2 linked regions of the Homo sapiens genome follow. The protein of the gene in region 2 interacts with the protein of the main gene of each other region in a biochemical or structural test. Each region holds a gene or a part of one and is shown on either strand. Other genes may lie near its edges.

What was found.
Region 1: the proteins of CD19 (region 2) and LYN form a complex in vitro, tested with the Homo sapiens proteins (one study listed by BioGRID).

Annotation. Positions count from the first base shown.
Region 1 is NC_000008.11:56,011,622-56,014,851, reverse strand, and holds the end of LYN (tyrosine-protein kinase Lyn), read right to left. Parts: 3' UTR 683-3,230; downstream 1-682. UniProt on the Homo sapiens protein: Non-receptor tyrosine-protein kinase that transmits signals from cell surface receptors and plays an important role in the regulation of innate and adaptive immune responses, hematopoiesis, responses to growth factors and cytokines, integrin signaling, but also responses to DNA damage and genotoxic agents.
Region 2 is NC_000016.10:28,930,540-28,935,001, reverse strand, and holds the start of CD19 (B-lymphocyte antigen CD19 isoform 2 precursor), read right to left. Parts: upstream 3,032-4,462; 5' UTR 3,002-3,031; coding exon 2,914-3,001; intron 2,657-2,913; coding exon 2,390-2,656; exon of another isoform or gene 2,092-2,389; coding exon 1,888-2,091; intron 1,769-1,887; coding exon 1,493-1,768; intron 1-1,492. UniProt on the Homo sapiens protein: Functions as a coreceptor for the B-cell antigen receptor complex (BCR) on B-lymphocytes. Decreases the threshold for activation of downstream signaling pathways and for triggering B-cell responses to antigens.

The sequences.
Region 1 (3,230 bases), on a different chromosome or scaffold from region 2:
TATTTCTAAAAGTTCTGCGTTAACATTGAACATTGGCCAATCTAGATTATTTCTAAAGTCCTTCCAAAGACCTAGAGATAGAGGCCGCCAAGATTCCCTGTCATTTCCCCCTTAAAGAGAAATATTCAAGATCTGTGAATATCTGTGGCCATCTCGGGAATTCTGTGACACTTTTTGGCACTCTGACTTGAAGTATTTAATAGATTTATCAGCACACAGGAAATTAAATTGGAAGGCTTTCCTCTTACACGTCTATCAAGTTAAAACTTTTCAGGATAAAATTTTTATCAGTTTTAGTAACATTCATGTTATGAAATGGAACATAAATGCTACTGAAACTTAATTTTTTTTTTTGTAGAGACAGGGTCTCATAATGTTGTCCTGGCTGGTCTCAAACTCCTGGCCTCAAGTGATCGTCCTGATTCAGCCCCTCCAAAGTATTGTGATTACAGGTGTGAGCCACTGTAGCTGGCCAAAACATTTTATTCTGAAGTGTAGTCTCTACAAATTGTCTTTAAAAGTGTGAATGGTAAGTTAAATTCTTGCATTACTTTTCTACCCAAATAAAATTACTTAAGGAAAAATTTCCCCTCCCATCTGTGTGGGCTCAAATGGTGCATCTTGTAAGTAATACCCTTGCTTACTCAGAACACTCAGCTGAGTCAGGGAGATTCTACACAAAGGTGTTTCACTGGTTTTATTTCACAAGGAAACAATATGAAGCGAAGCCAATCTATTCCTTCTGTGGCTTTAAATGCTCCCGATCTCTCAGCTGTGAAATAGTGATAGCATTGTCCAGATCTTCCAGGGTCGTTGTGTGAGTTAGAGATAATTTTTATCATTTGCCAAAGCACAAGAGGGCCCTGAGTAAAGAATGTGTGTATGGGTATCTTTGTATGTTTATAATTACCATTTCCATCAGGAAGAACAGCAAGACTTCACTTAATCTAAAATATTCGTGGAGTTAAAATGTAGGGAATAGAGAACTACGATCTCTCTTCCACCAGCCAGAAGTGGAAAATAAAGGAAGATGCTAAGAGGAAAGCTGGGCGGTTTGATCTCATCTGAGAGGTGTTCTTGGCTGAGGAAGCAGGAGATGTCCGACAACTGGCTGTGGAACCTGGCAGTGACATCAGAAGAGCTGGGGAGCGAGCCCTAGGACCAGCATTTAATTTATTTGAAGGTGTCAGAAGCTGAGGTTGCAGAATTGAGTCCTTTTAGCAGCTACCGCCCCTGGATGTAGTTTGTGAGAGGACGGGGAATAAAGAGAAAGCAGACCCCGACCGGGCACAGTGGCTCACACTTGTAATCCCAGCACTTTGGGAAGCCGAGGCAGGCGGATCGCCTGAGGTCAGGAGTTCGAGACCAGCCTGGCTAACATGGTGAAACCCCATCTCTACTAAAAATACAAAAATTAGCCAGGCGAGATGGTGTGTGCCTGTAGTTCCAGCTACTAGGGAGGCTGAGGCAGGAGAAGAATCGCTCCAACCAGAGAGGGGGAGGTTGCAATGAGCTGAGATCGCACCACTGCAACTCTAGCCTGCGTGACAGAGTGAGACTCTGTCAAAAAAAAAAAAAAAAGAGAGAGCGAGAAAGCAGACTCCACAAGCTGACGTGGAGATGAGTTTATACTTATGATGCTTTCAGTGCCCTCGATCTATCCCTGGTGTAGGCAACAAAATTAATTCCCTCCTTTTAGTTATTATCCTTTTATGCACCCTTGGGACAGCCAGGGCTGCTGGCTTCTGTGGCAGTGAATTTCCCCTAGAAGGGGGCTTGGACAGTACACGTTCCCAGTGGCTCATCAGAAGTACTTTCTGCAAGGGGATTCTGTGGAACCTCAGGAGGTATGCCTGGAGAAGCCACGGAAGCCCCAGGTGGCCCCTACTACTAAGGACACTGGTTTCTAGCCTGTGAGTCTCCTTTAGGTTCAGTGAGCTTCATGTTCACCAGGAAGGAAGGCACGTTTTTTTCCTCCTTCCTTCTCTTCCACTCCCCTTTGAGAAATGAAACCATCTGAGGAAAAAGAAGGCTGGGCTTTGTAATATGGGTCAAACCAAATGGTGACTCTCAAGACTGAGCATACATTATATTCACCAGGGAAGGGTTTTTTTGTTTTTTTGGTTTTTTTTTTTGAGACAGGGTCTCACTCTTGCCCAGGCTGGAGTGCAGTGGCACGATCATAGCTCACTGCAGCCTTGACTTCCTGGGCTCAAGCAATCCTCCCACCTCAGCCTCCTGAGTAGCTGGGACCATAGGTATGTGCCACCACACTTAGCTAATTTTTAAAATTTTTTGTAGAGACTTGCTATATTGCTCAGGCTGGTGTCTAACTCCTGAGCTCAAGCGATCCTCCTGCCTTAGCCTCCCAAAGTGCTGAGATTACAGGCATGAGCCACTGTGTCTAGCTGACTGGAGAAGCTTTTAAAATAGACTGACATACATCTCCCGCTGCACAACAGCTAAGTCAGAATCTTGGCGGTAGGGAGTATGGATTCTGTCTTTCCAGTTCTCTACAATAACCTGAGGTGTGATGACATGAGCCATTTTGCACACCACTGGATACCCGAAAATGCTACAAACACCTATTCAGCCCCTCATTATGCCTGTCTGTCACAGGGAGGCTGGAAACCTATAGCTAAGTAAGGAGACTGTGTGTGCTGTTCATCAAGGGAACGTGTGACTTCCACACATGCTGGACACCAGAGATGAGGCCCAAGCTGGTGAAGGGCCCACATGGAGGTAAGGATCACAGGCTTGATTGGGAGGGAAAGACAAGTGGAAAATGGCAAGAAGAGGAGGAACTGGGAGAAGCAAAACAAGGCGAAGATAAATTTAATAATTTTCTTTAAATAAATTTGTTATGCTAAAAAAAAAACCTCTAGTCATTTTCTAGAGACTTCTTTTTGCCTTAGGGATTCTTTATAGTTCCTCTCCATGTAACATATTGGGTAATACTTGTGGTTCTGAAATAAAATGCAAGCAGGGGGGTGTACACAAAAACCTTACCACTGAATCAAGGGACCAGCTGTGCAGACATTATGTAACAGTAATATTCTATAGTTCTGAACATGGCACTTGTGAATCAATAATTTTAGAATATTTTAGAAAGGACATTTAAAAAAATCACATAGGAAACAAAGTTAAAATTTAGAAAAAAGTAGAATATTTTATCCCATCTTCTAAGCACCTCAAGCCTAAACAAAACACACAGAATGAAATTTTAATGA
Region 2 (4,462 bases):
TCTCTCTAAGGAGCCATGTCCCAGGAGGTCAGGGATTGTCACAGACCCTGGCACAGGACATGGGGCAGTGTCTTTGAGCAAATCGTGGACAAACCATGGCTGTACTCAGAGGCAATGTGTGGATTGAGGGGAGCATAATGATCAGTTTCCTGCTGCAATTAAGGATAGTCACGGTCAAAGTGAAGGGCAGAGTTGAGTTTGCAAGGTTACAGTTGGGATCCAGCACATTGCTTGGATCAAGTTTGGAGTGAAAGTTGGGGTTGGGTTTGTGAATTGCAGTTAGGATAGCATGATAGGATTGCATGGAGAGAGAATTGGCAGAACACTGTGACCAGTTTGTTGGACGGGGTGAGGAAAAAGAAGGATGCCCAGGTTCTTAGCCTGGGCGAGGGAGCAGGTGGTGGTGCCCTCTGCTTACACTGGGCCACCAAGAAGACTATACTTGGGGAAGACATTGAGTTTGATTTTGTATCTGTTGAGCCTGAGGTGTCCATGGGATATCAAATGGCACAGGAGATGGCTGAGTATGGAGCCTGGAATAGAGTCACCAAGGCATGGTGACCCAAGAAGCCATTGAGAGTCAAGTTCAAATAGGAAAGTGTGCAGACAGGGATAAGAAGAGGGCCCAGGGCTCCAAGAGTGAGGAGTTGGGGAGGAAGGAAGACTCCACCCAAGCTGGTGGGCAGGCGCAAGCAATGGTAGGTGAAGACCCAGAAAAGTAGTGTCTTGGAAGCGAGGGAAGAAAGACTTGAAGTCTAGGCCAGGTGCGGTGGCTTATGCCTGTAATCCCAGTACTTTGGGAGGCCAAGGCAGGCAGATCACCTGAAGTCAGGAGTTCAAGACCAGCCTGGTCCAACAGGGAGAAACCCCATCTCTACTAAAAATACAAAATTAGGCTTGGCCCGGCCCTGTGGCTCATGTCTGTAATCCCAGCACTTTGGGAGGCCGAGGCGGGTGGATCACGAGGTCAGGAGTTTGAGACCAGCCTGGCCAACATAATGAAACCCCATCTCTACTAAAAATACAAAAAAAATTAGCCAGGCTTTAATCCCAGCTACTCGGGAGGCTGAGGCAGGAGAATCACTTGAACCTGGAAGGTGGAGGTTGCAGTGAGCTGAGATCGTGCCACTGCACTCCAGCCTGGGTGACAGTGCAAGACTCCGTCTCAAAAAAAAAAAAAAAATTAGCCAGGCGTGGTGGTGGGCACCTGTAATCCCAGCTACTCAGGAGGCTGAGGCAGGGGAATCACTTGAACCTGGGAGGCGGAGGTTGCAGTGAGCCAAGACAAGATGGCACCACTGCACTCCAGCCTAGGCAACAGAGCGAGACTCTGTCAAAAAAAAGAAAGACTTGGAGTCAGTGTTCTGTGTGGAAGTTGGGGTTTGGGGTGAGGCTGGGAGTAGCCCTCGGGTTGGGGGAATCTAAGATTGACTGGCTTCCACTTCTTCCCAGTACCCCCACACAGATGCCTCCCAGTTGAGAGAAACTCTACCTGGCCGAGCAGTGATCTCCAGGTGGAATGACATGGTCAGGTTGCCACGGTGACAATAATACTTTCCAGCGTCTTGAGCTGTGGCCCGGGGCAACAACAGACCCGTCTCCATTACCCACATATCTCTGGCCGGGCGATCGTCCTTCAGCTCTAGGCTCAGCAATGACTTAGGCCCCTTGGGGTGCACATGGGTCCAGGAGAGGGGGCCCCTGGACACAGAGTCAGGGGGTACCCCACAGGACAGCCAGAGTGTGGAGCCAGGGGCCATGGTGAGGTCTGGGACAGGGAGAGATAAGACAAGGAAAGCCTGATCCTCAGGGTTTCACCTCTTCAGTTTCCCCTCCCCTCTGTCTCTGGACCCCCGCTTCCCGGCATCTCCCCAGTCATCACCATACCCTGGCTGAGGCTCTGGTTCAGGCTGTCCCTCGGTGGGAGACACGGAGGCTCTCCCTCCCAGATCTCAGGGCGGTCTTTGGCCCACACATACAGCTTGGGGCTCATGAGCTTCCCGGAAGGGGAGCTGGGGCCCTCTGAGGACCTGTTCTTCAGGCCACAGCCCAGGCCACCTAGGTCCGAAACATTCCACCGGAACAGCTCCCCTGGGAAGAGACCCAGAACCAAATGCAGAGACACCCAGGAGAGGGAGAGAGATAGAGACTCAAAGACAGAGATAAATAGAGACAAAGACCCGCAGAGAGAGAGAAGACAGTGAGAGGTAGAGGGACAGGAAGCAGCTCATACTGAAGCCACGAAGCCCCAGGAGTCTGCCCACCTAGCTCCGAGTTTCGCCCTCAATCCCTCCAGCCCCTCTCTCCAGCTCCATTGTGGCCGCGGACCTCTTCTGTCCATGGTGGCCTCCCTTCTCTCCTCCTGCCCCTGCCCCAGCCCGGCCCTCACCGCTGCCCTCCACATTGACTGTCCAGCCAGGCTGCCAGGCCTTCTCAGAGGGGGGCCCCGGCTGGCACAGGTAGAAGCCCCCCATCTGTTGAGAGACGTTGAAGATGAAAAGCCAGATGGCCAGGGGCCTCATGTGGATTCCCAGGCCTGGCAGCCCCAGGCTGAGTTTTAAGAAGGGTTTAAGCGGGGACTCCCGAGACCAGGTCAGCTGCTGAGTGGGGCCATCTGAGGTCCCCTTGAGGCACTGCAGCACAGCGTTATCTCCCTCTGTGGAGAGAGAGGGAGAGAGGTGTGGGCATGGGTGGGGGGGACCTCCAAGCCCCCCGACTCCTCACACCAGGTTATAGAGCAGAGGACTCCAAAAGCTGGGAGTGGAGGAGCCGGCAGAGTCCTTCCAACCCTTTCCTGAATTTTACAAATAAGAAAATGGAGGCTCAGAGAGGGTAAGTTACTCAGCCAAGGACACCCAGCCACAACTCAAGTTTCCAGCCTCAATCCCTTCCCTTTCTGCCCTTTGGACATACCTTCCACCTTCACCACTAGAGGTTCCTCGGGCCTGACTTCCATGGGGGTGAGGAAGAGGAGGAAGAAGAGGAGGCGAGGAGGTGGCATGGTGGTCAGACTCTCCGGGGCACCCAGCTTCGCGCAGGGGATGCTGGGGCAGGCAGGGGCCTGGAGGGCACTCAACCATGGGTGTCTGCGGGGGCGGCAGGCAGTCCCCCCAGAGAGGAAGGCGGTGGTCACGCCTCAGGCCCCATTCTCCAGGAACCCTCCAGACTCACAACACTTGCCTCCTCCCTGCCACGCTGTTTTATTTTCATCCCAGCTCTCACTACCACGGGAAATGATCTTGTGTGTTTATTTGTTCATTTCTGTTTTCTGCACAAGAATGTGAGCCCCTTGGAGTAGAGACCGTGTTGTTCACCACTAATTGCAAGTGCTCTAGAACAATGCTGGGCACATAGACTCCTTCTCAAAAAAAAAAAAAAAAATTAGCCGGGCATGGTGGCGCACACCTGTAATCCCAGCTACTTAGGAGGCTGAGGCAGGAGAATCACTGGAAACCAGGAGGCGGAGGTTGCAGTGAGCCGAGATCACACCACTGCACTCCAGCCTGGGCACCAGAGTGAGACTCTGTTTCAAAAAAAAAAAAGAAAAGAAAACAGTCCTATACAAATATTGTTTGTGAAGATTAAAAATGACAATATGTTCAGCACTATTAGCCCAGTGTCCAGCACATCATAAGCCCTCAGTTAATGAGATACAGCTTCAATTAATGCCTAAGAGCTCAAGTCATACTGCCTCAGTTTAAAACCAGGCAAAAGCCAGGCACAGTGGTACACGCCTATGGTCCCAGGTCCTTGGGAGGCTGAGGTAGAAGGATCGCTTGAGCCCAGGAGTTCAAGGCTGCAGTGCACCATGATTATGCCTGGGAATAGCCACTGTGCTCCAGTCCGGGCAACACAACAAGACCCTGTCTCTAAAAGAAAAATTGTTTTAAAAGAACCCAGGAGTTCTAACTCCTAAATCTGTTCTTATTCTGCCCCATGCCTCTCCTCTCTGTCTCTCTCTTTCTCTGTCACTCTCTATGTGCCTCTGTGTCTTTTTCACTGCTGCAGGGACTCAGAAAAAGAATTCAGGGACCCAAGAGACCCACTTTCTCAGTGGCTGATTCCCAGGCCCATCTCACCAGGCTGTGACTTCCTGTTTGCTGTGGGCAAGCCCCAGGGGACCCTCCCTACAGGTGGCAGGGCCTCCACTTCCCTTTGGCCAGTTGAGGCGGCTGGGAGGCGGAAGAATGAGGCATGAATGAAGGGGAATGAAGGGGGCGAGTAGCAGGACTCAATCTGCCTTTCATTCAACAAAATCTCTCTAATCCCCTCATTAGCTACCCAGCTGCCCAGACTGGCTTTCACTAGAGCATGTCATTCCCCTGCTTAAAACATGTCAGTTACAGCCAGGCACAGAGGCTCATGCCTGTAATCCCAATACTTTAGGAGGCCGAGGCGAGAGGATCCTTTGAGGACAGGAATTTGAGACCAGCCTGTGCAACACAGCGAGAACCCATCTCTA